Linked DNA regions of Homo sapiens: regions 2, 3 and 4 are each linked to region 1. The links come from fine-mapping of genetic effects on gene expression. A gene starts in region 1. Each other region holds a variant in brackets. All regions are shown on one strand. Distances are from middle to middle. Region 1 holds the start of BAMBI (BMP and activin membrane bound inhibitor). Region 2 holds the start of LINC01517 (long intergenic non-protein coding RNA 1517). Region 3 has its middle 140 kb from the start of C10orf126. Region 4 has its middle 130 kb from the start of LYZL1.

Region 1 (7,563 bases):
AGGCTAACTTCTCCTCCTCCTCCTCACAAGTTTTACATGTAATTCGACATGTGATCTAAAAGGGGAAACACTGAAACTGAAAATCCTCTGCTGGTTGAATGAAAAATCCTTAAGGAAACCTCAAATTTTCTACAGGAAGTGATTAAAAGTTTCCTTTATAAAAACTTATTTTGTGAGTTGCATGGCTCCGTTCACATTTTGTCGCAGGGCAAGATTGGAGGCTTTAATATCAGTTTCTCGTTGAAATAATCTGGGTCTTCAAGTTCTCACTAATACAATATCCACCTAGTGGACCCTGGTCGCTGTCACATGCCACAGCGAGTAAACTAAACTAATGCACACGCCTCTTCCAGTTTCCCGTCTGAAGATCCGAAACCTCCACTCTGAAATTAAACACCGGGATCTGCTGTTTTACAAACCTCTTCCCACCCTTACCTTTATTCTTCCCCCTCTCTCTGAACGCCCCAGTAAGGTGTCTCATTTAATTATCTGTCCAAATTCCAGACCACGGTATTGTATGCTCAGTTTTCACCGGACGCTGCTAATGCTTCGGTTCTAAGGAAAACCAGCCCGCTAAACACAGATCTTTGGCAACCCTTAACAGTCCAAAGCTAGGGGTCTTGCTCCTAAATCTGCACTGGTTGGGCCCAAGTTCCTTCTCTGCTTCAAGTAAGAACCTTGCTTTGCAGAACCACTTCTCTGCTCTTTCTCCTCCTCCCTCCAAGCTCACTTTATTTTCCACATAAAGCTCACCAGTCTTCTGGGGTGATGACTACATATCCCTAGTTTGACAAATTCCATATATAGATTTAAAGTATAAATAAAACAGATTAAAAGCCCATTTTGACCCTATTAGCTTCAGACCTTGTACAGAAAAGGAAGACTGAATACAAGTAAAATGCTGCTTAAATGTTTATGAGAGCCTATTTTCAATGACCTAAAAACAGCCTAATAAAATTTTGACAGGTAACTGGGAAAGTTCTAACTACCTTTTTTTTTTAATTGGAGCCACATTTTAAGCAAGGAGAATGGACTTTTGTACCACTGTATTAAAACTATATTTCTGTCGTTCATAAAGTTTCTTCCTGTGGCATGCAAAAGGCCAGAAAGGGGACTGGTATTTTGAAACTGTGGAACAATGCCCTTCTGTTTCTGTCCCCTTCTCGTTACTGTATGTAGTGATTAAACAAAAATGTCTGCTTTAGTCAAGATGGCTACAGGAGAGACTGCTGGCTTCTTTTAAAGCTTTTGAAGTCCGCAGCCGTCAGAAATCTCTGATCCCCTAATTATATCATTATCAGGCACATAGTTTCGGTATCTGTGACTTCATGTCAGCCTCAGTCCCTCCCTGTTCTGCCCGCCTTTGATAGGGCCAGGAGGCTCCCCTCTGCAAGCCACAAGGGCTGTTATTTAGGGTTAATTACACCCTTCCTTCCAAAATAAATAAATACTGTAGCACATCATCCTCGCTGGGCTAGCTTATGCTTTAACCTCATGCCTGCTACATAGCAATTAAAGAGAAGTAGGGGGCTGCAAAGACTAAACTGCTTCCTACTTAAAAAAATTATCTGTTCACAGAACAGTAGGTAGATTTCACAGCAGGGAGGTGAGGAGAACCTTGAAATTCGGAGACAGTTCGGGTTATTTCTTTCTAAAAGGTGAAAGCCTGCAGAGGAAAGAAGAAACTGACCCGCTGCCTTTTTTTTTTTTTTGGTCCTGTTTGTAAAATATGAGGTGAGTGGCAGTGAGACGCTGACAGAGCCTACTCCTCCCGGCTGCTGAAAAGCAACACAACACACACTTCTGCACACCTCGGACACCTAAACTCTCAGGGAGACCCACACACTCGCTCGCACACAGAGAGATGTACGCAGAGACACACTCACACAGAGACTCAGATGCACATTCAGAGATACAAAGACACTTAGAGACAGACACAGAAATGCATTCAGAAAGACACACTCAAGATCAGAGATACAGAGACTCACACATTCAGAGACACAAAGACTCAGAAAGAGACACAGAAATGCATTCAGAGATACATTCAAAGAGACACAGAGATACGCTGAGTGATACAGAGGTTCAGACACACTTTCAGAAACACAACGACACTCAGAGACACAAAAATGCATTTAGGGATACTGAGACTCAGAGACACACTCACAGAAATACACCCTGAGGCACTCACACAGACACGCTGAGGGCACGCGGCAGCTACAGGCCAGGATCTGCGATTCCTCCCGGCCGCCCGAGCCCCCAGGGTGCGGAAGCGGCGGCGTCGAGGCCGAGACTCCGGCCCCGCTCCCCGCTGGGCTGCAAACGCGCCGCTCCCCGCAGGCAGAGCCAGGAGGACCCTCTGATCAGCGCCTGCCCTTAGATCGGAGTCCGCATCCACGCGCCAGGCCACCGCCGCGACTTCTAAGAACACAGCAACTTGTCGCGACCTGCGGCTCCGGCGCAGGAGGGAGCCTCGCCTGCCGCTAACAAAGCCTCTGCAGCCGGCTCCAAAGCCCCGCGGCGAGGACGGGACCCCGGGCCCCGTGCGCCCCCGGCACCCACCTTTGGTGAGCAGCACGGCCATGGCGCAGAGCTCCAGCTGCAGCCAGATGAAGATGTAGCTGGAGTGGCGATCCATTGACGCCCCGCACGGCCGCGGCGCCCCCGCCGGCTTCCGGAGCCCCGGCTCGGCGGCAGCCTACGACCCCCGGAGCGCGCAGGGCATGGGCCCTGCCCGGAGCGGCGGGCGCCGTCAGCGGCGGGGCTGGGTTTCGGGCCGCTGCCGGAGCATGGAGCGCGGCTACAGGGCGCGCCCAGGAGCCCAGAAAAGTTTCCCGGTCCCCCGTCGGCGGCCACTGGCTCCCTTGCCCCGCTCGACTCTAGGGACGCACGCTAGCCCCGGGTCGGGAGTGGGCTCCCGGCCTTCAGTCCCCGCTAGCGGCCGTTCTCAGCGAAGAGAGTAGGGTCTCCACAGCACGCAAGGGTATCCGCCGCAGCTCCCGCCCGCGCCAGCCCAGGTCTCTCCGGCTCCGCGCCGTAAATAGCGCCCCGCGCCGGGAGCCGGCCTGCACCGCCCCGCCTCGCCCCGCCCCACGGCGTCCGATTGGCCGCCGGGCTCCTGTCAATCCGCCCCGCAGCGGGGGGCGGGCCCAGACGCGAGCGCTGGGGGACCTGCCCGGCGGCTCCGAGCGGCGCCGGCGTCTGGGGCGCCCGGCTGGGGCGCCCGGCTGGTGCGCTGCCGTCTCCCGCGCTCCCCCTTGCGGAGGCCTGCGCGTCAGTGACCTTCGCGAGGCGCCGGGGGAGCCCAGCCCCGGGACCGGCTCGGGAACCCGCCTCCGAGACCCTGACGGCTCAGCCTCGGGTGGTCAGCGTTCCCCAGCGCGGGGCTTCTTTTGGGTGCCCCCCGAAACACGCAGGGGGTCCGTGTGGTCGTCCTCCCCGGCCGCACTGCGTTTTCTGGAACCCCCAGGGGCGAGTGACAATGCCCCGGCCTGTGCAGGTGGCGGAGGAGGGTTCGGGTGGGAGCCCGGGGGAGGCGGCCCAGCGCTGGGGTCTGCATTCAGCCTTCGCCCCCCACCCCCTCAGCGTGTCCGCCTCGAGCTGCCCGCCATGGGATCAATAAAGCCCAGACAGACTGACTGTTGATCCGTTAGGAGCCGCTAGGTTCTCCCGGGTACGCGGGACGAGTAGCGGGCTAGAGACACTTAACGAAAATTAGCAAATCCAAAAGCACCCGGCGCCAACGAGACGACACTGGCCGAGACTGACACTCAATTAACCACCCCCCAAACAATGGCTGGCAAACACGCCGGCTGACCCTGATCAATATCAGCCCCGCAGTGATCTCCTCCTTGAGATGCTAATTCATTTATTAGGGATCGCGGGGCTGCCCTTCCCAAGGTACTCAAGGTGGTCTTGCTGTAGTTTTGTTTCCCCCTCCGCTTTGGAAGGAATTAAGGTTAAAACTCATTATCTGAGGGAATGTTCTTTTATCCTCTCCCTCCAAAACCTGAGATGAACAAAAGTCGACCATTTGCAAAATTCTTCTTGAGAATCTGCCAGAGCTTCCCTACCGGATATGTCAAAAGGGGGTGGGGGGTGGGGAAGGAAAGAAAGAGAAGCACATTTCATGCTAAGGTGAGAATTATAAAGACAAATCCTTTAGGACTAGAGTGCAGACATGAGCTTTGAGACTAAGAAAAATGTACATATGTCTTGAGGACTGAAAGTCAAGGCGAACATATCTCAAACGCCTAACCTTTTAAAGTTGTTGAAAGTCTGCAGAGCTGCAGGATGTAGTTAATGAAATTGTCTTTGAAAAATAATGTTTATGTGCAGAAAAATAAAATAATTTCATAAACTGATGCTCAGACCATTACTTCTCTAGATCAAAATTGCATCTAAAAGGAGAGAAGGAGAAATCCAGTAGAAGTTTTAAAAGAAAATTAAACTGGTTAGGGCACCAGGTAAACAGCAGGTTTCTCAGAAAAGTTTCTCAAGGGGCGTGCTGACAAGGCAGTCCTGGGGCCGAGTTTGATTAGAACTTCCTGGCTACTAGAACCTTGACAAGTTAACAATTGTAAGGGTTTTATGCAGACAAGACTTTTTTTTTTTTTTTTTTTTTTTTTGAGACGAGTCTGGCACTGTCGCCCAGGCTGGAGTACAGTGGCGCGATCTCGGCTCACTGCAACCTTCCGCCTCCCGGGTTCAAGCCATTCTCCTGCCTCAGCCTCCTGAGTAGCTGGGATTACAGGCACCTGTCTCCACGCCTGGCTAATTTCTGTATTTTTATAGAGACGAGGTTTCGCCATGTTGGTCAGGCTGCTCTCGAACTTCCGACCTCGTGATCCGCCCGCCTCGGCCTCCCAAAGTGCTGGGATTTACAGGCGTGAGCCACCGCGCCCAGAGGACAATACTTTTTATGTAATGATTACACTCTCTTTTAGAGTCAATTATTAGCTAAAAGGAAACTTTCAGGGTATGTTAGTTCAACCTGGCCTCCCACCGTAGGCGAGGCTTGCAATGTCTGGGGGTATAAAGATGTCAGAAACTAGATAGTAAATCTCAAAACAATGGAGCTGGACAATAATGGAGATTTATGTGCATGATGTTACAATGCCTAAAAGAAAGAGGTTAACTAGTCTAGGAAGGTAAAGAGAGCCGGTAAAGTCTAGAAGCAATGACATTAAGGATTGGAAGAAGACCATTACAAGCACAGAGGACCACAGGACTTAGGCATGAAATATGATTGTGTAGGTGAGTAGGAGTGGTAAGCAGCGAACAGGTAGTTGGGATGACAAGCAAGTCTTTGTGATTGCAGCATAAAATGTGAAGAAGTGAACAGAGACGTATCAGAAATGAACTATACTTCCCTTTGATACAGATAAATATTTAATGGAAGAGGTCTGGGGAATGTGTTGGTGAAAGTTGCATTCTAGTAGACACTTTCTGAGTGTCTCCCAGCCCAAGTCAGAGAATGTCCCTTTTCCCGGAGTGGGCGTTGGCAACCTGATTAGGAGACTCTGATCTCCTAATCTCTGGCCATAGCTAGTCACATGACCCAGGTTAGGTCAGTTAGATTCTCTCTTCTGTGTCTTTGAGCAGACATGCTGCTCAGTCCCTTGAGGTCATTTCACGGGAGACATAAAAATTTTGCTTTGGGGCAGCTGTAGTCCACCTGTCTGCAGAGGAAGAAAAATAATGAAGATATGCAAAGTGGCAAATACATAAATCCAAATGGATTTCCAGGCACTCAGCGTCACTTCTTGTCCTTAGGTTAATTCAGTAACCTTAATAAAGTCCCCTTTTTACTTAAGGTTCTTTTCCTTGCAACCCAAAGAAACCAAACTAAGATATTTGTATTTTATTGAATTAATGTTGACTTTGAGCACTCCAGGTTGTATATATTTTTTTGTTCCAAGTCCAATTCTGAATAAGAACTTGGGATCCATTTTTTAGACAATGATTTCAACTATTTTGTTTTTATTATTAATGGGCAAACTTTCTAAATGACCAGAAATTAAAGAGAAACAAGTCCGCACTTTATCTAATGGTTCTGGGGAAGACATGGACTTTTCAACTAAATGAATCAGAGTGTTTGAATCAATGTAGAATATCAAAATCAGTTTAGGGATAATGTGTCAATCATAAGGCCATATCAATAGTTGAGAGAATAGGCAACAATTTTAATTCAATTTAACATTCTTAAGGAAAATTGCTTCTCTAGAGAATTTTACTTATGCTTTGCACATAATTCAGTTATTACTTTCCTACATGTAGGTTGATAAGTAGAGGGAAAAAAAATAGTACAATCTACTGTCCTTTTGAAGTTTAAAGCAAGAAATGAAATCAACGACCAAAATTCTTTTTACATCTACAAAGGGATTCCGAAAATACCTAGGAACAAGCTCTCTATACCCAAGAACAGAAAACTGATTCTAGACCTAACTGAAACCGTTAAACAGTAGAATAGTTTTTTATTACCTTCAAACAGCATTCAAGATATAATTTATCCATGGGAGATATATATGTATATATATAGGCGCGAGCCACCATGCCCGACTAATTTTTTAATTTTTTTGTAGAGATGGTGGTCTCCCTATGTTACTGAGGCTGGTCTCAGAATTCCTGGGCTCAAGCAATCCTCCTGCCTGAGCCTCCAAAAGTGCTGGGATTATAGGTGTGAGCCACCATGCTGGCCGTATAGATGTTTTAAAGATTTTAAATGATGTCTTTGAAATTATAGGCTAAACATGTAACTAAATGGCACTAAATTGTGAATGGGAGAGTAGAGAGTTACTTGCTTTTTTTTGCTTTTTTAGAGACGAAGGCCTCCCTCTGTTACTCAGGCTGGAGTACAGCGCTGCAATCATAGCTCACTGTAGCCTCGAACCACTGGCCCCAGCCTCCCAAGTAGCTAAGGTGCTCCCCACTGCATGGGGCTAATTTCTATACTTTTTGTTGAGACAGAGTCTCCTTATGTTGCCCAGGCTGGTCCCAAACTTCTAGCCTCGAGTGACCCTCCCACCTTAGCCTCCCAAGTAGCTGGGATTACAGGTGTGAGCTTGACTATCTTATCAGAGAGTTATTTGTGTTTAAGGGATTCATAGCAGAATAGGAGCTTATTTGTTAGGTGACCAGATAGAACAAAGGAAGATTATACAATCTGAGAAAAGCGCATCAGAAGTTCTTCCCTTAATACCAAGGATAAGAACAAGAATTCTGTTCATTGATGACCTCACTTAGGGTGTACTCTCTTCATAACCTGTGTCCATAAATCTCGTTAAAATGCATTAAATATTTGAAGATATGCACGTTTGGCTGGCATTTTATTTCATGGCTTGAACTCACACATCAAATATAATGTGTGTCTTGATACTTTGTAAATGATAAAACAAATACTATATAGTTAGTTATTTTCTCAGGAATTATTATGAAATAAAAACAATGACAGTGGCCAGAACATAATAGCAAATAAATAAATAAATAAATAAAAATAAAACATTTATAGTACATCGTTAGTCAACTTGCTTAATTAAAAGGAAGAGAGACACACTAAAGATTAAT
Region 2 (7,563 bases), 63 kb before region 1:
CTTCTTTGTGTCAGATTTCCCTTCGAGGACTCTGGACTCCGAGGACCTCTAAGAGGGAGGCACAGCTGATAACCACTATGCACTGTGGAAGCCACCTTTGTGGTCCCACAGGAAAATTATGAGGTCACAGAGCTCTGAGGCCCCTTGCCATCCACTGTCCTCACTGCCTGCTAGGTCTCTCCCAGATCCTCAGGCAGCTGCTGACTGCCACCACAACAGACCCCTCACCTCCACTCTGATGGCAAAACTGCCCCCTGCCAATCCCTCTCCACCCCCCTTAAAACCTCACCTATCGCAGCAGCTGACATCAGCCAGTGTGAGGCAAAGATGAGCTGAGCAACAAAGTCATGGCTGGGCACCATGGCTCACACCTGTAATCCCAGCACTTTGGGAGGCTGAGGTGGTAGGATCACTTGAGACCAGGAGTTTGAGACCAGCCTGGACTTGTGAGACCCCCATCTCTATTTTAATTATTTTAAAAAGAAAAAAAAAAGTCAGAAGGCCTGCATCACAGCCAAGTGCCAAACCTCCCCAGAAGGCTTATGCTCTTACCCTCCACAGGTTATTTGAGGTATAATTAACAAATAAGCACGCATGCAGTGGCTCACATCTGTAATCCCAATATTTCGGGGAACCAAGGTGGGAGGATCACTGGAGGTCAAGAGTTTGAGACCAGCCTGAGGAATATAGTGAGACCTCATCTCTACATAAAATACAAAAATTAGCTGGCTCTGGCAATGCACACCTTAGCCATTTAGGAGCCTGGGGAGAAGGATCACTTGAGCCCAGGGACTCAAGGCTGCAGTAAGCTATGATGGCACCACTGCACTTCAGCCTGGGCAACAGAATGGGATCCATGTCTCCAAAAAAACAACAAAAAAAGTATATACTTAAGATACACAACATAATGTTTTGATATATGTATGCATTGTGAAATGATTATCACAATTAAGCTAATTAGCATATCCGTCGCTTCACAGTTACCTTTGTGTAGTGTGGGGGGTGTGTGTGTGTGTGTGTGTGTGTGTGTGTGTGTGTGTGTGTGGTGAGACAACTTAAGATCTAACCTCTTAGCAAATTTCAAACCTAGAATACATTATTATTAATCCTATAGTCACCATGCTGTACCTTAGATCTCCAGAACTTATTCATCTTATAACAGAAAGTTTGTACCCCTTAACCAATAGCTCCTCATTTCCTCTCCCCTCCCGTTGGTCCAACCTCTGGTAACAACCCCCTACTTTCTGTTTCTACGAGTTTGACTTTTTTAGATTCCACATATAAGTGACATCAGCATTTGTCTCTCTGTGCCTGTCTTATTTTACTTCACAAAATGTCCTCCAGGTTCAATGTTGTCACAAATGACAAAATTTCTTTCTTTTAAAGATTAAATAATAGGCCAGGCATGGTGGTTCACGCCTGTAATTCCAGCACTTTGGGAGGCCAAAGCCAGCAGATCATTTGAAGTCAGGAGTTCGAGGCCAGCCTGGCCAACATGGTGAAACCCTGTCTCTACTAAAATTACAAAAATTAGCCAGGCGTGGTGTTGTGCGCCTGTAGTCTCAGCTACTTGGGAGGCGGAGGCAGGAGAATCACTTGAAGCCGGGAGGCAGAGGTTGCGGTGAGCTGAGATCATGCCACTGACTCCAGCTTGGGTGACAGAGTAAGACTCTGTCTCAAAAAATAATAATAGTAATAATAATAATTAATTAAGTAATACTTCATAATGTGTGTGTGTTTATGACATTTTCTTTATCCACTCATCCACTGATGGACACGTAGGTTGTTTTTATCATGGCTATTGTGAATAATGCTGCAATGAACTTGGAAGTGCAAATATCTCTTTGAGATAGTAATTTTCTTTCTTTTGGATATATACTGAGATTTGAGATTGCTGGATCATATGGGAGTTCTATTTTGAGTGTGTTGAGGAACCTCCCTGTACTAATTGACATTCCCATCAAGACTGTGCACGTTTCCCTTTTCCACACATTCTTGCCAATGCTGATCTTTTGTCTTTTTGATGATAGTCACCCTAACATGTGTGAGGTGATAGCTCACTCTGGTTTTGATTTGCATTTTCCTGATGGTTAGTGATATTAATTAAGTACATTTCATGTGCTCGTTGGCCATTTGTATGAATTCTTTGGAGAAATGTTTTTATCATTTTTTAACGGGGTTATTTGTTTTTTGGCTTCTGAATTATATGAGTTCCTTATATATTGTGGCTATTCACCTCCTATCAAATGGATAATTTGCAAATATTTTCTCCCATTCCATACGTTGCCTTTTCACGTCAATGATTATTTCCTTTGTTGTGTAGGAAGCTTCATACCCTTTAAAAGCCCAAAAGAATAACCTAGAACTCAAAAATTCTTCACCCTGGCCACACTTGGGCAGCTTTTTAAAAACTCTGATGCTTAGGCCTGTTCCAGACCAACAGAAGCACAAATCAGGGGCAGAGAGGAGGATGGGGCGGGTATGGGGGTCAGGCCTGGTGTTGTCTAAGCTCCCCAGAGGAGTCCAATTTACAGCCCAGGTGAGAACCCTGACCACTGCCACAAAGAAGCATCTATGACAGGCTCTCTGGGATTCCTGGGGATACAGCCACCTCCACCTATGAAGGATCAACGCTCTTGTTAATGACTCCATAAACCCCTTGCGCCCCCAAACTCTCCTCCACTCTACATCTTGGCACCTCTGCTCTGCCCAGTGGACTAAGGGGCAATATAAGGGTAAGGAGGCTCCAAGCAATATCATTTCAGATAATTTGAGAGGACTCTAAGCCAGAAGATGTTACTTGTTGTTTGTCCTTTACTAGCCACCCACAAACTCCTCCATACCCACCACCCTACACCTCACCTCTCTTGGCTTAGGAGAATCTGGGCCTGCAGTCTTGGTGGTAAAATGATGTTGAAAACCATCTGAGTGGTGACACTAATCAACCGCTC[C/T]GTGTGTCTGCTTGGGTATCAGCAGCATCTTCCCATGTGACACCAGGAAATGCCCATCACCTGAATGGCCCTGTGTTCATCAGTCCTGCTTCGGTGAACCAAAAATGAAAGCCCAGACAACTCTCAGAACTCTTAGAGACACCAAATTATTCAAAGCACCTTACAGGAGAAAGTGGCACCCAGAGCAGTGGCTCACACCTGTAATCCCAGCACTTTGGGAGGCCAAGGTGGGAGGGTCACCTGAGGTCAGGAATTCGAGACCAGCCTGTCCAACATGGTGAAACCTCATCTCTACTAAAAATACAAAAATTAGCCAGGCGTGGTGGCAGGCGCCTGTAGTCCCAGCTACTCAGGAGGCTGAGGCAGGAGAATGGCGTGAACCTGGGAGGTGGAGCTTGCAGTGAGCCGAACTCATGCCACTGCACTCCAGCCTGGACGACAGAGCGAGACTCTGTCAAAAAAAAAAAAAAGGAAAAAGAAAGAAGAAAGAAAGAAAAGAAAGAAAGAAGAGAGAAAGGAAGAAAAAGAAAGAAAGAAAGAAAAAAGAAAGAAAGAAGAAAGAGAGAGAGGAAGGAAGGAAGGAAGGAAGGAAGGAAGGAAGGAAGGAAGGAAGGAAGGAAGGAAGAAAGGAAGGAAGGTTGGTTTTGCAGCCCAACAGCTCTGGCCCCATCAACTGGGACTTTAACCAACAGCTCCTCATTTTCTCTGCAGATTGGGGCCACAGGTCTGACCCCTTGAGATTTTCCTGATCTCTTGATGAGACCCCTGCGTTACATGTGTGTAGAGAAGAAAATGAAAAAGCCAACCAAAATCTGCTCACTCTTTTCCTCTAGACTAGAGCAACCAGATGATGTATAATAGATACCATCTTTCTTGCCTAAAATATAACTCTAAACAGGTGTCTGTGTGTGTGTGTTTGTGTGAGACACAGAGAGAGAGAGAGAGTGTGTGTGTGTGTAGCCATCAGGCATAAACTTATTCAAGCTTGAGTATCTACATCTGTCACTTACCCACATCTGTACATATCCTCCTAGCAGTCAATTCCTGTGACTGATCCTTCTTGGCCATTGTGCAGTGATAAAAGAAAAACTGCAGTCGAATTAAATTTAAAGCAGTTTAATTGAGCAATGAATGATATGTGAATCAGGCAGCCCCCAGAATCACAGCAGATTCACAGAGACTCAAGCACAGCCACGTGGTGAAAGAAGATTTATAGACAAAAAAGAGAGAAATGACGTACAGAAATTGGAAGTGAGGTACAGAGTGGTTGGATTGGTTACAGGCTGGCATTTGACTTATTTGAACACAGTTTGAACACTCAGCAGTGTATGAATGGTTGAAGTATGGCCGCTGGGATTGGCCAAGACTTAGCTATTGTTACAGGTGCATACTGTGAAGTTAGGGTTTCAATTTTGTCTGCCTATTAAGCTAGGTTACAGTTCATCCACAAGGACTCAAATATAGAAGTATGGAGTCCTTCTCAGGCCATATTTAGTTTGCTTTAAAAGCAGGCTTTGACACAGTGACCATTCCCTTTTTGAACCATGCTCTCCCTTGGCCTCCATGATGTTGCTCTTCCCTGGCTCTCCTCTGAGCTCTCGGGCTGTTCCAACTCAGTCCTCTGCCTTCTCTGTCCATGTTGAGGCTCTTCCATGTTCTGCCTTTAACTCTTTTCTATCCACATCTCCCGGGGATTTCACCTATATATCCATAGATCTCTTATCACCTATGCTGTGACATTAAACCATCTCTCTCCTGCCCTTTCCTGAGTACAACATGCCCCCCAAACTCAACGTGCCACAAACTCATGATCTTCCTAGCCATCTAGATCTGCTGCCCCTCTTCTTGTGTCCTCAAGCTCAGTCAAGAACACAAGTGCCATCCATTCACTCTGGAGGAACCTGGGAATCATTCCAGCCTCCTTCATCTTCCCAAAATGCCCCATCCAATCAGGGACCTGATTCTGCCTCTTCTGCATCTCTCGTGTCCCTTTCCCCACTCTACCTCTGCAGTGAAACAGTCTGACTTTACACCTTTGTCCTCTCCCTCTTGAATCATTGCAATTGTCTCTCAACAAGTCTCCTCTAGTCTCAGCAACCACCATCCTTCTCCACATGTCACCAAAGCAACAATTCTAAGGAGCAAACCTTGACCTGCTCTTCCACGGCCTGGGATCCAAGTTTATGTCTGCATCGGGAAGCAATGAGTGGGTAGATATCTGTCATAAGATAGTAGATCTTACTGAATTTGAGTGGGAGGGAAAGTGGTGAATCAGTCCAACCATGAAAATGAAAATTATTCTAGATATTTCAAACAGAGGGCATTTAATACAGGGAAGTGGCTGCAAAAGTGTTGGAAGACCTGGGGGCTCAGAAGACAGTGAGGAAGTCCAAAAAGTTGGCCTGAAGGGGGCAGTGTTCCTGGAGTCCAGGATCTGGCAGAAGCTGGTGGAAGGTGGAACCACCGCAGGGACATCTTCTGGGATCAGGAACCTAGAAGAGACATGATTACTATTGGAGATGCCAGAAAGAGAGGACAAAATGTGCCTTGATCTCTTCCTACCACTTACCCTCCAATCTCATGCCAGTGCCTCCCATTGGCCAAACCCAGCCAGAAGGCAATTATGGAAATTCTGGAAAATGATTTTCCTACAATACAGACCAGAGCAAGGGAAGGGTAGAGAATGAATCTGATAGCAAACAGGCAAATGACTGGCATAAAATTGTAGAACATTTATACATCCACAGGGTTTTTTCAAAGATAGAAAGCTCAGTAGTCAGACCATCTGATTCCACATGTGATCGCTGGAAACCTTCAACTTCTTCGCCAGGCATGGCTTGCTCAAACTTAGCTTTTTAGAAACTCTTCAAATTAGTCAGCTCATGTATTTGTCCCCTAAATACAGAATGAATATTTCTTGGCTCAAATTGTTTCCTTCTGTCTAGAATAATGATCTTGCTCTTTCTACTTATTTAAATCAAACACATCTTTGGACTCTCAGTTTTTTCTTTTGCTTTTGTTTTTTGTTAGGGATGGCATCTTGCTCTGTCACCCATGCTGGAGTTCAGTGGCACAATCATAGCTCACTGCATCCTTGAATTCCTGGATTTAATTGATCCTCCTGCCTCAGCCTTCCTATTAGCTGGGACTACAGATGTGAGCCACCATGCTCGGCTAGAATGCTAGTTTAATTCCAAACTCTTTCACTAGCATTTCCTGACAACTACTATCGGGATAGGGTTGAAAAGTGTTATCAATTCTAGCGAACCATGGTATGGTTGAAAAGTTACAGGATACACAGCTAAAATCTATTCACTATAAGGTAAGGGGTGTCATGGATGAGTGGTGACTATCTAGACCAGTGGTGCCAGTGATGAAAGCATTTACCAAGACAGTTGTAGGTAAAGAAAGGCAGATTTATTAGAGGAAGTAGAAAAATACGTTGCAGGGGAGCAACAGGCAGGCCAGCAAAAAGGAGCTGACTGTCAGGAGACAAAGGCTTGCTGGGGATTTTAAACAATAGTGTTTGTGCTTGTGCTGAAGAGGGCTTTATGCAGTACTGATATTGCCAAGGTTGCAGCGAGCTAACTTGCATTTTTCTATCAGCTGAGGGTCTGGTGATAGCTGAGTGCAGGAAGATTGTAAGTTACTTGTGCAGGAGGGTTATGTGTCTTGGATCATGAAGAAGGGCAGATTTGTAGCTTATCTGCTTCTTTTTGCATTCCTTTGGTCCCACCAGCCCAACTCCTTTTCTCTAATTAGAACTCCACAAGGGGAACTTCTGGTGCTTCCTCCATGAAAAGGATGACCATCAAGACATTAATATAACATCTGGCCTCTCACCGTCTCTTATTCACTCTGTCTAAGAGGAGGTAGAAACACTTTTCTGAGAAGAATATACTGGGCATGAAACCATCATCACAGGGTTAACAAGAATTCCATGGCAGGTTCTGGACAGAAATAAGGTTACAATTAAGCATTCATCAGGCTGCACTTTGCCCACTTCCATGTAACTGAAAGTCACATAGCACCAGATACAGACCTTTTGCATCCCCACTGTTCCTGTAGATAGGATCTCTGATGATAGAATCATAAAGCTTTTGTTTAAGAATTACTTAAGATGCTTTTCAGACCCTGCATTCTAGTGAAACGGCTGACACAAACCAGTTTGAAGACCCCACAGAGGAACCGAGTCCGCATGAAAATAGCTTCTTCATCACCCCATCCTATGACTTCACCCTGCACTCTTCAACCCATGAAAAATCCCTACAGCTCAATCCACTCTAAACCCATTAAAATCCCTGGCCCCCCAGCCACGCCAGCATAGTGAGACCCCTATCTCTACAAAAAATAAAAAATTAGCCAGACATGGTGGTACACACCTGTAGTCCCAGCTACTCGGGAGACTGAGGTGGGAGGAAGGCAAGACCTACGGAGAGAGAGAGAGAGAGTCCTAACTTCCATTTTTATATATATAATATATATATTATACATATATGCAAATATAGGAATATAGAAATATATATAAATGCAAGTCCTATACTTGCATTTATGTATATTCCTAGCCCCAAACTCCTTGGGGAGGTGGATTTGAGGTTTCCTCCTGTCTCCT
Region 3 (7,563 bases), 310 kb before region 1:
CAAATCACTGGGATTACAGGCATGAGCCACCGTGCCCGGCCAGATTTTGGATATGTTATGAAGATAGAGCAGGGAGGATTTGCTGGTAGCCTGCATTTGGGATGGGGAGGAGGAGAGAGCTCAAAGGTGACTCACGGGGTTTTATTTTGTCTCACTCCCTGTCTTGGCTCCCCACGTCTCGTGGCGAACGAGCTTCTCTTTTCCTTCATGTGTGTCAAATCCTCCTTCTTCCTAAAATTAGCTCCAGCTCTACACTACAGGAGGCTTTGTGTCGTTTTCCTTTATATAAGAAAGGTTTTGAAAAAATTCTTGCTTTCCACCAAGGCATGTTTCTAAAACTATTTTTTTATTTGTGTAAAACAACATCCTTATTTTATTTAAATACATATGGGAGAAGAAAGAGAGATGTGAGGGGAAAGAAAGTGAAGGGGAAAAGGAGAAGTAGGAAGAAGAAGGGGAAGAGGAGAAGGAAGGAGAAAGGAGGAGAAGGAGGAAAGGGAAGAGGATGACGAGGAAAAAAGGAAGAGGAGGAGGAAAGACATACTGGAAGGGAGGGAAAGCAGACATTCCCTGGTGGCCCAGGACAGCAGCCAGGATGTATAAGCTCCAAGCCAGGAATGGGCCCTTTCACACTGGGCTCTATATTCTCATACATAATTTAAATCCGTTACAACAACGACGTATTGGTATTTGAATAATAAAAATCTATGGCCGGGCATGGTGGCTCACGCCTGTAATCCCAGCACTTTGGGAGGCCGAGGCAGGCAGATCACCTGAGATCAGGAGTTTGAGACCAGCCTGGGCAACATGGGGAAACCCCATCTCTTACTAAAAATATAAAAAATTAGCCAGGTGTGGGGGCAGGTGCCTGTAGTCCCAGCTACTTGGGAGACTGAGGCATGAGAATTGCTTGAACCCGGGAGGCGGAGGTTGTGGTGAGCCGAGATCATGCCACTGCACTCCAGTCTGAGCGACAGAGCAAGACTCTGTCTGAAATTTAAAAAACAAAAACCAAAAAACTAAAGAAACAGTGGGAGTCAAAAATAAAATATATTGTCACTAAATTCAGCTTTAAAGGAGGGAGAGATAAAGTCTTCTGAGGAGGAGGAGGGCCTGGCAGTGAAAGATGGGTCAGCAATGGTCCCTGAGCAGGCAGCATGGTGTCAGGTGTCAGGCATGGGACAGGAAGTTGGAAGACCCAAGTTCTACTCCAAAAGTCTCCCAGGCCGGAGAAACCTGGATCAACCCTTTAACAGTCTCTGCTTTGGGTGAGGAAATGCTCCTACGTAAAGTGGGAATAAAAATGCCACTTCCAGCAGGGCATGGTGTTGTGTACCTATAGTCCCAGCACTTTGGGAGGCTGATGCGGGAGGATCACTTGAGCTCAGGAGTTTGAAACCAGCCTGGGCAACAGAGCAAGACCATGTCTTAAAAAAAAAAAAAAAAAAAACCACTTTCATGCCTCAGATCATTGTATTGTGATGAGGATCACACGAGAGGACAAAAATAAAAATTGTGGAAGTCTTTTGAGAAGGATTTTGCACTTTACGCACATGAGCTTTTATGATAAATTGCTCGGGAGGTTGCCAAGAATTCATACAAAGAAACATGAACATCTTTCTAAGAAACTGGAAAATCCCAATGATAGTTCTTCATGTAATAGGGGTAGGACTGTTCCTCAGACTGGATGGAACCACCTAGACACGTCAGTGGCCTTCGGATAAGTCTTGAATCAATGTGATCTTTAGTCATTCTGACTCAGCGGACTTGACTTGGTACTTGACACACATGATGGAAAATAATTAGAGGGGACTTACCCATGGTCTAATGGGGAAAAGGAAGCTAAAATGATAATTTGAAGCTGGAAAACATTGATTGGCTTCCTCTCCCTTTCCAAAGCCTCCTCCCCAGAGCTCACTTCTTGGAGGACTGGATGGCAGGTGGAGATGGTGAACGGGGTCCTGGCCTACCTGGCAGAGCACTTAAATGGTCAGGGAGCATCAGCCCCCTTTGCTGGAGTCAGTCGAGTGTCCTTCAGCTCTGAGCGCTGCTGTGGGTTTTGAGCAGCCACGTGGCTCTCAGACGAGACATCTATTGACAACCTCAAAGGGCTCCTGCACTGATCAATAACAGCATGCCTCCCCTGCCTTCAGCTAAAAGCTAAAGAGACGGGCTGGTGCATATATGATCACTAGAATTTAATTATATATCACATTGATTTTTAATTAGAACTGTAGTGAGGACCTCCTCTATTAAAAAAAAATTCCAACTGGCAAATGGGTTTTACTCAATTTATCAAATAACTTGAAATGCACTGCTCCTTCTCACTTTTAAGCCTCTTGATGAGAAGGAAACCTGCTACGCAACCCCTGTCACGAGGGTGAAGACCTTGAAACCTGCTAGCATGTCTCGAACATTTTTATTCAAGTTCTGTGTTTTGGCATGTAAGCCAGACACCCAGAGGAGCAATGACAAGAGGCTTCCGTGTTATTTATAACTAAGTCCAATTAACACTGGAAAAGGTCCCATTGGCTCTGATCCTGTCTAATCTCTTTGAGAAGTAGGTCCAGTGACACAGCCTGGCTCTACAATCAGATCTAGCACCACACAGCTTGCCTCATCTGACCCCTGTTTTCCTGCAGAGCTAGGATGCCTCAAAGCTCTCCATGCACTTTCGCTTGGTTTTTCAAGGCTGCAAGGCAAGAGCTTTGCAAGCTGGAGGTAGACTACAGATCCAGAGCCACAACTTCATCCTTAGTAAAGGCCCTATCGGTGCTCACATTTGCAGAGAGTGCCTGAGAAACATGGGCGTTGTCCTCCAGAATCACCAGGTTTCTCTTCAAAGTTGCTCTGGGACCTAATGGAGTCACACAAGCTGGCTAGTTGCTCACTGTGCAAGGAAGAAGAGGCTCAGATGTCAGCACCAGTCAATACTGCTGACCAAGGCACATCCAGTCACACAGCGTAGCCAGGATTCCCTCCAGTGAGGAGCCTAATGGATGTGATCTATAGTCACAATAATATTAGTGTTACCTACATCCCAGGCACTGCACAAAACTCTTTGCACAGTTTGTCTTCTTTATCCGTAGTTCAGAACTGTGAGATGGATCTTCATTTTGCAAATAAGAAAACTATGACTTAGGCCGGGCGCAGTGGCTCACGCCTGTAATCCCAGCACTTTAGGAGGCCAAGGCAGGTGGATCACCTGAGGTTGAGAGTTTCAGACCAGCCTGACCAACACGGTGAAACTCTGTCTCTACTAAAAATACAAAATTAGCAGGGCGTGGTGGCGCATGCCTGTAATCCCAGCTACTCAGAAGGCTGAGGCAGGAGAATTGCTTGAACCCGGGAGGCAGAGGTTGCGGTGAGCCGAGATGGCGCCATTGCACTCCAGCCTGGGTGGCAAGAGAGAAACTCCATCTCAAAGAAAAGAAAAGAAAAAAAAGAAAAGAAAAGAAAACCATGACTTAGAGGGTGTGAGCAGTCTGCCCAAGCTCACACAGGTGGCAGCGCTAGGACTCAAGCTGCAAGGCTCTTGCTCTTATCCCCTCTTCTGTACCACCTCCTGCATCAATGGGTGTGTTCTGCCAGGCACGGCCCGCCACCTCCTCACA[C/T]CTGCCAAGAACAGCCACGGGAACATGGCCAGCAGTGGTGAGAACAGAGCAGCCATTTCCTCACTTCCTCTCTGCTCACCCATCCCCCGAGCCCAGTCCGGTTCACTGCCCCACTTTCCTCATGGTGACTCATACTATACTGACATGAGAAAAATTGCCCTGCCTCCAAGCATTTTCTTGAGCTAGCTCTCTGCCCAAAATTTCCTTCTCTCTCCTCTCCACTAATTCATTCAACTCAGCCCATATTTATTGAGCTTCTACTGCATGCCAGGCGCCATGCTACATGCTGGGAATCTCGGACTAAAACATGATAAGCCATTGTCCTCACCCTAGCCAGGTAAACAGACTACTAGAAACAACGAGAGAAGCCTTATGACGACATAAGCAAAGGTAGATACTAAATAATATGGGAGAGATGGGCATGGATGGTTTCCTAAAAGACACCCATCCTTCTGAGCCCAGCCCAAATCCCATCTCTTGCTGTTATCATCTGTTTTTCTTCACTTCTCGTTCACCTCTCCTGGCCTTCCCCATGCTATGTTGCATCTCCTTTCGCATCCATCTGTCTTACTTAGCATCACAGGCAGACTAGTTCCAGACAAAAGAAACATTTCATAATTCTAAATCCTTCCAAGTACACAGAGTATTGCTTCATATGCAGGAGACTGAAAGAAGACTTTAAGTATAATTAACACACCCTCTCCAGACCAAATCTTAGTCTCGGAAATCCCAGTACAGATCATCACATACTGTAATCCCTCCATTCTGGCCTGGACAACTACTAACCTGTGTCCATCATTCTTTGGAATGAGCTCCTCTGCAGAGAAACCATGAACACATCCACTTCCCTGGAATCTGAGTACCAGAGAAACAACAGGTGTTACGGAGGCCAAATCCTGGCTTCCCAAGAGGGCCACGTGCTAATCCCTGGAATCTGTGAATGCATCTTAAAAGGCAAAGTCTGTAGATGTGATAAAGTCGACATCATAAAACGGAGAGATTATTCCAGATTATCTGGGTGGGCCCTACATGCAATAAAAAGTGTTCTAAGGGCTGGGTGCAGTGGCTCACGCCTGTAATCCCAGCACTTTGGAAGGCCGAGGCAGGCAGATCACCTGAGGTCAGGAGTTCGAGACCAGCCTGACCAACATGGGGAAACCCCATCTCTACTAAAAATACAAAATTAGCCAGGCTTGGTAGTGCATGCCTATAGTCCCAGCTACTTCAGAGGCTGAATCAGGAGAATCGCTTGAACCCGGGAGGCAGAGGTTGCAGTGAGCCAGGATCCCATCATTGCACTCCAGCATGGGCAACAAGAGCAAAACTCCTCCCCCCCCCCCCAAAAAAAAAGTGTTCTAAGAAGGAGGCAGAGGGAGATTTCCGACAGAAGAGGACAAGGAGGTGCGACCATGGAGACAGAGATTGGAGTAATGCGTTCACATGCCAAGGAATTCCAGCAGCCTTGCCAACTTTGATTTTGGCCAACAAGGACAGATTTTGGACTTCTGACCTCCTAAGCTACAAGAGAATAAACTTGGGTTGTTCTAAGCCACCAGGTGTGTGGTGGTGTGTTACAGCGGTCGTAGAAAACAATGCAATTGCTTTCAAGTGTCGTGAAAGACAGCAGCAGGTACATGAGCTCATGCTGGAAGATCCCAGGTGGCTTCCCCTCCTGCACTCGGGGAAGAAGGGAGCCTCTTCTTAGACTGGAGATTTGCCCTTCATGTGCTCCAAGGGACAGATTGTGGCTTTTTTTATGGGAAATGGCAAGGCTTTGGGTTGTGGGTCACTCTTTTCTTTCCTCCTCCTCCTCCTTCTTCTTCTTCTTTGTGAAATGGGGTCTTGTTAAGTTGCCCAGCCTGGTCTTGAACTCCTGGGTTCCCATGATCCTCTCATCTCAGCCTTCCAAGTAGGTGGGACTACAGGTGTGCACTACCATGCCCAATTTCTTCCTTACCTTCTTCCCCATATTTCCAGAAGTCTTTGATATAACAGAGTTTCTGAATTTTTTCACTGTATTTAAAGATAGTTCACCTAGTCAGAAAAAAATAAGCGTAAATCCTCTACCCAGAACTAAAGGAAATCAAAGCTCACTGAATGGAACCAAGCAAGAAAATGTGTTGAAAAACATGACCCACAACTTTTTCAATGTATACTTTGTGCTTCATCTCTTCATGCCCCTTTCTCCTGTCATGGATGTTGTCTGAGAAGGAGCTCTACAGTTTAGTGCTAAGACTTATTTGTGTACGGTCCAGTTGCTATAGGCTAATGCAGTAGAAGGAGTTGGAAAGAAGACAATATTGATGAAAATTCAGCAGGGTCTACGCAATTCTGTGCAAGTAGGATTTAAGGATTTTTACACCCTTAAAACAAAGGTAGTCTTAGTGCAATTTCTCCTGAAGTGGGTTCCTTCATTCCTTAGCCAGAGGTGATCTGATGCTCACTCTCGTGTTGTTGAAGAAACACTTAAAACATATGAGCCAAAAAATGCAATAGAATATATTCCTCCTATCGGGAGCATGGGAACTCTGTAATGGAGTGCTCTGCCAAGATCTTAATGAGACAAAAAAACCCTTAAGTGTTATAAAAATAAGAAATAAGAGGGCAGTGAATTTAGTTAATCCCATTGATTTCCTAATTCTTTGCCCTTATTCCCAAAGTATACATTTAGAAATGAGATGTAATTCTGGGAGTGATTTTCAACAGCCTCATAAAGGTGGGTAACTTGCACATTCTCTCTCCAGGTCTACCACCTACCACTGTAAAATATGGACAGAAGTGCATGTGGCTCTAGGGGAAACTTCCCAGGCACATATTTAATAAATGCAGTATTATGCTGTTGCGGGGGTGAGGGGTGGATAGAGCAACTGGAATGGGAGGTGTGGGGTAAAACTCTAAAGCTTCCATGCTTGGTTCCTTATCGCTGTCCTAGGCAATGAGTTAGCCAAGGGGAACTAGATGTGGTATCCTTAGTTATTCGATGGCATGGCAGCATAAAGCCACCATCAGTTTGCACCAACCCAATGTTTTTGAAAATATTAAAAATGCACACTTAGAATGTTCAAATCTGGTGTTATAGTAAAGTGGAGAGCGATTCCATTCAGATGAAAGTTACCCTAAAATTCATTGCAGGAGCTTCTGATGTGCACTATGTTATCAAGGCAGCAGGAGACGACACCAGTGTTCTTTTGTAACCCTCTTGCCTACAAGAAATATTAACTTTGTGTGTGTCTACTTTTCATGTTAAGCACCTTTCAATTTAGTCCATTTTCAGATACTACAAATAGCATTGTCATTGTCATCTTTGTGCATAGGAGCTGCTCTCCTGACTTTTCCTCTGCTTGTAGAGTATTTGAAACCAGATTTCAATGTCTAGCCCTTTCTCTGACTTCTGGTATCCCTCTTAGAAGTCATTTCTTTTCGGAGTACTTCTACTTTCTTATATGAGTTTAAAGGAACTGAAACTTCTTGCTCCCCTGGTCAAAGAAATTGCACAGATATCTAGAGTTATATACAGAAAACACCTAAATCGTCTCAAAAGATTAAGTACATCTCAAGGCATTTTTCCTTTTTCACTCAAGGTTCATAAATGTGAAGCTGGTTTTCATTTTACCAACTTTCGTCTACAATTAAGATGAAAAAAGGAAAATATCAACATCCCATAGGAAATGCTGAATTCCTGGATGTTGATCCTAAATATTCCCAGACAAGAATCTAGAAGAAAAGCAGTATATGAGTAGATCTTCACAGTCGAAACTCAGGCGATCTGGAGAGGTCCAGATAAAAACAGGCAGTATCAAGTCAATATCAAAAAAGCTGCAAAATCTTGAAGATTTCACAGTGACTAATGATTTAGGCAATTGTCAATATCAGCGGAATCTATTTGTCTCTAGAATAGGCCTAATTTTCATTCTTTTAAAAGAACTACTCTACTCCTCATTTATTCTCC
Region 4 (7,563 bases), 480 kb before region 1:
TCATACTTTGTGAGGATCTCTCTAAGCTATCTGGTCCCAGCGTTTAACATAACCACCCATGAACTTGGTGAAAACCTACATTAAAAAGCTGATAAGTGGATACAGATTTGCTCTGTGGATAGAACTCCTTGACATTCTAATTTTTCACATTATCTCACACATAGCCATTAAAACTTTCTTACAAGTTTGAAGGGTTTCTCCCTACCATCTAAAGTAGATTTCTCCTGTCCCACTGATTCTTCTTGATTTGGTTTTTAGGGCAAGAGTGGCAGACAGCTTCTTTTGACTTTCTACATCATAACCAGAAACTAAGGTCCCCTAACCCTTCCTTGTAACCCTCTGCCTCATCGAAAATGAAAAGTGCCTCTTTCTTACAGATGTTCCTGTCATAGATGACATTCCATCTCTCACTGTGTTTGCCTGGCTCCCCTGAGGGCTGGGAGGGCTGGACAGAGAACTGGGGATTTCCAGATTTGGAAGGAAACTCTGAGGTCATCCTGTCCAGGATGTTTCTTACTTGGGAACTTCTTCCTTGGGCTTTCTCACACCCAGCTACTCTTCTGTCTGTGTGTTTTAGTGTCCATGTATCATCTTCACCGTGTCTGGCTGCAGGTAACCTGGTGATTCCCACCCTACAGTGGGCTCAACTTTTTTTTCTCCCTCTGAATTTTGAACATAAAATCAAAACAACATCTAGAAAACTTTCTATGTGCCCAAGCAGCTGTGTCTGGTTTGGCCCACACTTTGGGCTGGGACTTGGTCAGTGCCATCTTTTTATCCAAAGCGGTTCTATTCATCTGAATTCAGTATCCCTGGTCTTATTTGATGATGAAGTGACTAAGTGCTTAACTTGGGTTTGGAGTTTTATTTATTGTTTTTTGTTGTTGTTGCTGTGATTTGAACTATGTCCATTTATTTTGGTTTTCTTTTGTTTTTCACTTGGTAGCCTACTGCGGCAATAAAAGTTTAAAGGAAGCTCAGCTCCTAGTTATAGCAAAACACTCTTTAATAATGACTTTTTGCATAATTAAAAACAGGACCTGTAAATTTCTGAATAATTCGTCATTTTATTGGCCAAATGGAACTGTACTATGGTTAATGCAGGAGAATCACTTGAACCCAGGAGGCAGAGATTGCAGTGAGCCAAGATCTTGCCACTGCACTCCAGCCGGGGCAATAGAGTGAGACTCTGTCTCAATTAAAAAAAAAAAAAAAAAAAAGAAAGAAAAGAAAAGCATTTACTAAGAACTGGGATTACCTGGCAGCAGTAATACAGCTACTATCACATATGAAATACCTATTATGTGTCAGGCCCTACAATAGGTGTTTTATTTGCATTATCCCATTTAAACTTCATAACACCCCTAACTAACAGTCCAAATGATTACCTCAATTCACCAACACAAAAGCTGGAAGCATCCCAAGATGACAGAGCTAGTGAGTGTGTCTGCAATGCCAGGGCTGTCAACCCCAGAGCCTTTCTCTGAGGCCAGGCTGCCTCCTGTCTTAGGGACAAATTTTTATCCTCCTTCTTCTCTCCTCCTCTACACAAAACACTCCTTAATCCAGCAAGATTCCTCTCCCATCCTGGTTACTCGGAATCCAGCTTAATACCTGCCCAAGGCAGATCAATGGCACTTTAGCTACCATCCTCATCTCTGAGCTTCTTCTCCTCCTCTTTTATCACCTCTGCTATACACTCTGCCCCCACAACAGGTGTATTCAAGTAAATGCTGTTGTAGGAGTTATTAAGAAATTATTTTAGGCAGATAGACAGGAAAAAGGGGTCCTTGGGAAGTTTTCATTCTTAAAGCAGCTCTTAAAGCCAGGTCAGCAACCTTTGCTATTCAAATGCCAGCCATTAGAAACTGGGTCCATCCAAACATGGCGATTCCCGGCCTTCTTGACTTTGATCCACATGTTCCTGGCAACATGGCCGCCCCCACATATCCCCACGTGTGTAGAACATCATGGCGCCTGCATTTGCGTACTAAATGGCTAGGGTGGGAGGGCCAGCTTTTTCAAGGGCTATGTGAATGTCATGCCTGATCAAACCAATCCCCTAAGCCCTATGCAAATCAGACACTGCCTCCTCCAGCCTCTGCATATACCTGGCTGGTATCCACCACACTTGGGATTCCCTCTCTCAGCTTTGGAAACCTCCTCCCTCTGTCTCTGTACAGGGGACCTCTTCTTTCTTTCTTTCCCCTTCTTTCTTGCCAATTAAACTCTCCGCTTCTTAAAACCACTCCAGTGTGTCCGCGTCGTTTTATCTAATTTGACTCCAGACGAAGAACCTGGTGTTCCTCCACTCTTCAGAGCTGTATCAACATGCGCCTGGCAGAGAAGGGGGAGGGTGGAGGGCTAGTTCCATGATGTGAGGGTATGGGATGCAAGCGTTCCACCACTAGTGTCTACCTGGGTAGACAAAGGCTGTGGAGAACAGAAATCAGAACAATGATGTCTCTGGGATGGGATGGGGGAGCTGGGAAGGACAGGTGGAAACTCTTGGGGTGGAAATGTCCTAGATCTTCTTTGGAGTATTGGTAATTTGGATACATTTGTCAAAACTATAGAACTCTACACTTAAAATCTATCTATTTTATGCATAAAACTATATATCAATAAAATATTTATTTATTTATTTGTGTATTTATTTATATATTTTTAGAGATGAGGTCTTGCTCTGTTGCCCAGGCTGAAGTGCAGTGTTGTGATCCTAGGTCACTGTGGCCTCAAACTCCTGGGCTCAAGAGGTCCCCTTGCCTCAGCCTCCCAAATATCTAGAATGACAGGCATATGCCACTACATCCAGCTAATTTTTTAAAAAATTATTTTAGAAATGTGGGTCTGGCTATGTTGCCCAGGCTGGTCTTGAACTCCTGGCCTCAAGTGATTCTCCCACTTTAGCCTCCAAAGCATTGAGATTAGAGGCATGAGCCACTGATTACAGCCCAAAATATTATACACACACACACACACACACACACACACACACATATATATATTTTTTTGAGATGGAGTCTCGCTCTGTCACCAGGCTGGAGTGCAGTGGCATGATCTTGGCTCACTGCAACCTCTGCCTCCCAGGTTCAAGCAATTCTCTTGCCTCAGCCTCTTGAGTAGCTGGGACTACAGGCATGCACCACCAAGCCCAGCTAATTTTTGTACTTTTAGTAGAGACGGGGTTTCACCTTGTTGGCCAGGAAGGTCTTGATCTCTTGACCTCATGACCCACCCTCCTTGCCCTCCCAAAGTGCTGGGATTACAGGCATGAGCCACTGCACCAGGCCTAAAATATATATTTTAAAAGAATGCAGGTGCTATGGCACCCAGATGGCTACCTTTCAAATGGCATGGCTTTTGCCTTTGACAGCCTGCTCCCATCCTCACACAGCCCCCTCACTCCAGTTATACTCTTGAGCCAGTTTGGTGACCCCTGATTCTCATCAAAAGAGCTTTACAAGCTTTTGGGGGAGCGGGATTCAAGGACACCAGGCCAAGAAAGAGCCATGTCCAAGAGCACCCAAGTTCCTGAAAGGAGAAGTGGGCACTGTACAGAGGCATGAATGGGGCACCTACAGTGGACAACCTTAGCAAAAGGTTCTCTGGTCCCTGTTATGACTCAAGAGGGACAGGCCAGCTCTACTTGTGCTCTTCCAGAAACCAGAAGAAGTGAGGGCAAGGGCTGTGGATCAGAGGACTTCCCACTCATCTGGCCACTGGACTCTGCCCTGAGGAGGTGAAGTCTCCATCATTCCCCTCTCCTTCCCTTCTGTGAAATGCTGGTTCTCTAACCTCAGAGGCCTCACGCCTTTGGAAGGAGTAAGTGACCAGTATTGTGAGGCTCCAGATAAAGCCATCGCCTGACTCTTGGCAAGAGTGACTCTGAGGAAGCTGGTGCTTCAGTTGCTGAACAACCCATCGGTGTCTCTGTACCACGGTGGGGTCAACCCTACCCCGGAGCAGTGGAAATCCCAGAAACACCCTTTACTCGGCCCTCCTCTCTCCTACCCCTCTGCCCACCATCTCCCAACTGGTTTGCCTTTGATCTCAACATAAAAAACTCAGGCTCATTTTAAACCTGTTGATACTCTAATGACAAGAATCGAGACAACAGTAATTAATGATGAACATTAAATGGCCCAGCCCAGCTGCCCAGCAGAAACCACAAGGATAGTCATAGTGAGTCACCAGCTCTGGCAACAGGAGTGTGC[T/G]GCAGGCTGTCTGGGATGTGGCTTTGTTATGCCCAAGGTCTTTTCTTCCTAGCACAACACCTCAGTGAGGGCCACTTTAACAGAACTGTGAAGCCTTCTACCTGCCTCCAGTTTCCCCTTTAAACAATTTCCAAGGACTCCACCAAGCTCTTGCTCCTATTTCAGGGGCCTGGGTGAGACACAGGCGTCTTCCCCCTTTTCCTCTCCAATTTCGAAAACAAACTCTGATATCAGACATTTACACCTTAGTGAGAATCGAAAAAAGAAAAATAACAACTAAGTCTAATGTGTGATAACTGAGGCAGGAGAATAGGGCCCGGAGGCAGGGAACATAAGGCCCATCCACACCTTTAGTTCCTAGAACTAAATCAAATGAAAGCACTTCAGCAATGACAGGAATGTGAATGGCTTTGTAACTTCATTTCCTCCTCTCCAGTCCCGCCATTTACACTTTGTAACTTCACATTCATCCTCTCCATTTACATAGACCACACACTCCAAGTAACAGCCTCTCCATTTACAATAGGGCAGATTCTGAGTAAATGACTCTGTGACTTCACTTCTTTCTTTTCATTTACATAGAATATTCACCAAGCAGCCAGGTTGGTGATTACACCAGTAATCCCAGCACTTTGGGAGGCCGAGGCAGGCAGATCACCTGAGGTCAGGAGTTCAAGACCAGCCTGGCCAAACTGGTGAAACCCCATCTCTACTAAAAATACAAAAATTAGCCAGGCATGGTGGCACCTGCTTGTAGTCCCAGCTACTCTGGAGGCTGAGACACAAGAATCGCTTGAACGTGGGACGTAGAGGTTGCAGTGAGCTGAGATCGCGCCACTGCACTCCAGCCAGGGAGGCAGAACGAGACTCTGTCTCAAAAAAAAAAAAAGAAATTCACCAAGTAACTAAACAGAAACCTCTAGAGTATTGAAACTCAGAAAATTCTGTAACTGGGCTCTTGAGCCCCTACGCTTGGGCCCGCTCCCACACACTGTGGAGTGTACTTTCCTTCTCAATAAATCCCTACTCTTGCTTTCCTTGCTTTGTTTGTGCGTTTTGTCCAAATCAATTCTTTGTTTAAGATGCCAAGAACCTGGACACCTTCTACTGGGAACAATAGCCACCCAACCAAGTTCTAGGTACCCAGGAGTGAATTAAAGCAATCACTCCCCATGTCAGCATCGAGGAGAAAGGCATGACATTGCAAAGCCACTTCTAAGTGTCTTGCTGGGTAATAGCTGCACAATTCATGTTCTGAAAAATAGAAAGCATCAATTTCACTGACACACTAGGCTGGGTATGGTTGATTTCTGTCTTTAGCTGTACTACTGAACCAATGTGCTTTTAATAGGAAGGCTGCACCCTTTTCTTTTTTTTCTTTTTTTTTTTTTTTTTTTTTTTGCACAATAACTTGCTTTTCTGTGCCCTGTGTACTACTCTCCTAGGGGCTCTGTGAGCTTTTATGTTTACACTGGAAAGAAATATTGAAAGCAAAGAGTTTCTTTCTGTCTTTTTTAAAATAACCAAGTACAGCACTATTCCCAATGGTCCCAATCTAAGTTGCTTTCAGTCACCAGGAAAGAGATTAAGCAGTCCCTACCAACTTTGCAGCGCTTTACTCTGAAGCATGAACCAAGCCAAGGTCAAGCTCACAGGCGGCATCTTTCATTACTGTGGGGGCAAAGCTCCAGTCAGACCCATCAGAGTGGAGGCTTCTGGTCTCCAGCAAGTCATTATGTACTTAGGATTATCATTAATTTTCTCTCCCTGAAGTGCTTCTGATGAATGTGAGAGCTAAAGCCGACTATGCATTCGCTAATAAAAGGTTCTATGTTCAATTTTCTAAAAGTGCCCTTAGAGAATCCCCAATTTCCTGCCTCTTCTAAGAAGAAGCTGAGTTTGTGCTGCCTTCATAAAGGGAGAACTGAATCATCTTGGTGTAAAAGCTTCCTGAAGGTTGGAAGGAGAGGCCCCTGGGACATTCAGGAGACTTGGAACCTTCTGGGGCCTGGCAGTGTAGATAGAGCGGTTATTATTTATTGCAGACTTAAGAACTGTACACCGATGTCTATGTGGCTCCTGTTTCTCCATCCCATTTTCCATTTGCAAGGCTTCAGTCTCCTTCCTGGGAATCTTAAACAAGCTCCTACAAGTCCTGTTGAGCCCAGCGCATAAAGCCCATTTAGCTCTCTATGATGGGGTCCACACTGCCCAGGGGGGTCACCTGACTCAATGCGTTCTTTTGGCTATATCCTCAGTTGTCACATTTGATTGAGGACATCAGCTGTCTTAGATATGGTAGGGATGGATCTGTGCATTAAAGCAGGCAGCTGGGATGCCTTTTGCTCACCAGGAAGGAAGGACATGCAGGCTCTGAGTAGGAGCAGCTTTGAGTAGACGGTGCATGTGTTCACACTCAGAGCCCTGTAGCCTGGTCTTTTATTGAGACATAGAGACTGTGAAGCATTTTTTTGCTAAGCTTTAAAGTTTTAATTAGCTTATTATCATGAGCTGGAATGGGCTGTAGACGTGTTCAGGGCATTGAAACAATGCCTTCTGTGTGGGGCCCTTTTGGAAGAGAGCTCTGGGGCTTAAGGCACAATGGCTTCCTGTGTCCCAGGGCCCTGGTATGTCCTGTTCTTCCACCATTGCCTGGGCCACTCCCAGGCAGCATCCAGGGTGTTGTTGTGGGGTTTCAGCCACTGCTATGAACATTAGTGCAATGCATTTCCTCCTCATGGCACTAATGAAGGCCAGGCTACATAGGCCGGCATTGTCCAACATCTGCCTAGATGCCTAGCTTATGGCTGCAAACAGCAGCACAGATGACCAACAGATGCAAGCTCTGCAAAGAGCTCTGTAGCTAAACAATGAAGTCCCTGAATCTCCATACATGCTGATAGAGTTCAAATTAATCTATCACACTGTGGATCTGGCAGATTCTTGTCTTTGTTTCTGTTTCATCATCCAAGTGAATACAGTAATTACACTTGGGTGCCAGAGTGTAACAGCTAGTTCTCAGCCCAATAGTCTTGGCATGAAGAACCAAAGTAGGCTCTTTAGGTAAATTGCATGGTAAGGGGAAGGCCTCTGCTCCTGACAGGAGACTTCCATACATTCCTGGGTGCTGTACTGAGTGAGAGTTGCTAAGTAGCTAACATGGGCAGTCTGACTTCGGGAAGAAGTGAGGAGTTTCTTTAGGAGAGCTGGAAGTTCAATAGCTACACATTCTGGACTGGATGAAGCCAAGACAGGCCCTATTCAGCCTCTGACACAAATGCACTCCCAGATCTTTTAAGGCACTCTCTGATCTTGAAGTTGAGGTTTCCAACTCTAAATTTGCAAA

What was found.
Region 2: its variant is fine-mapped to the expression of BAMBI in testis (GTEx, PIP above 0.99).
Region 3: its variant is fine-mapped to the expression of BAMBI in monocytes after Pam3CSK4 (Quach 2016, PIP 0.95). The same link has a PIP of 0.9 or more in monocytes, monocytes after LPS and monocytes after R848.
Region 4: its variant is fine-mapped to the expression of BAMBI in fibroblasts (GTEx, PIP above 0.99).

The regions. Positions count from the first base shown.
Region 1 is chr10:28,672,970-28,680,532 of GRCh38, reverse strand. It overlaps BAMBI (BMP and activin membrane bound inhibitor), which reads right to left and starts at 3,012. Exons shown (of 3, transcript NM_012342.3): 1 at 2,560-3,012. The coding sequence starts at 2,635. RefSeq lists silencers at 2,115-2,259, 2,985-3,544.
Region 2 is chr10:28,736,196-28,743,758 of GRCh38, reverse strand. It overlaps LINC01517 (long intergenic non-protein coding RNA 1517), which reads right to left and starts at 109. Exons shown (of 4, transcript NR_120652.1): 1 at 1-109. The variant C/T (reference allele first, on the strand shown) is at 2,952.
Region 3 is chr10:28,980,698-28,988,260 of GRCh38, reverse strand. No RefSeq gene overlaps it. Among named protein-coding and RNA genes, the nearest start is that of C10orf126, 140 kb to the right of the region's middle. RefSeq lists an enhancer at 1,920-3,119. The variant C/T (reference allele first, on the strand shown) is at 3,615.
Region 4 is chr10:29,156,855-29,164,417 of GRCh38, reverse strand. No RefSeq gene overlaps it. Among named protein-coding and RNA genes, the nearest start is that of LYZL1, 130 kb to the left of the region's middle. RefSeq lists an enhancer at 4,297-4,972. The variant T/G (reference allele first, on the strand shown) is at 4,218.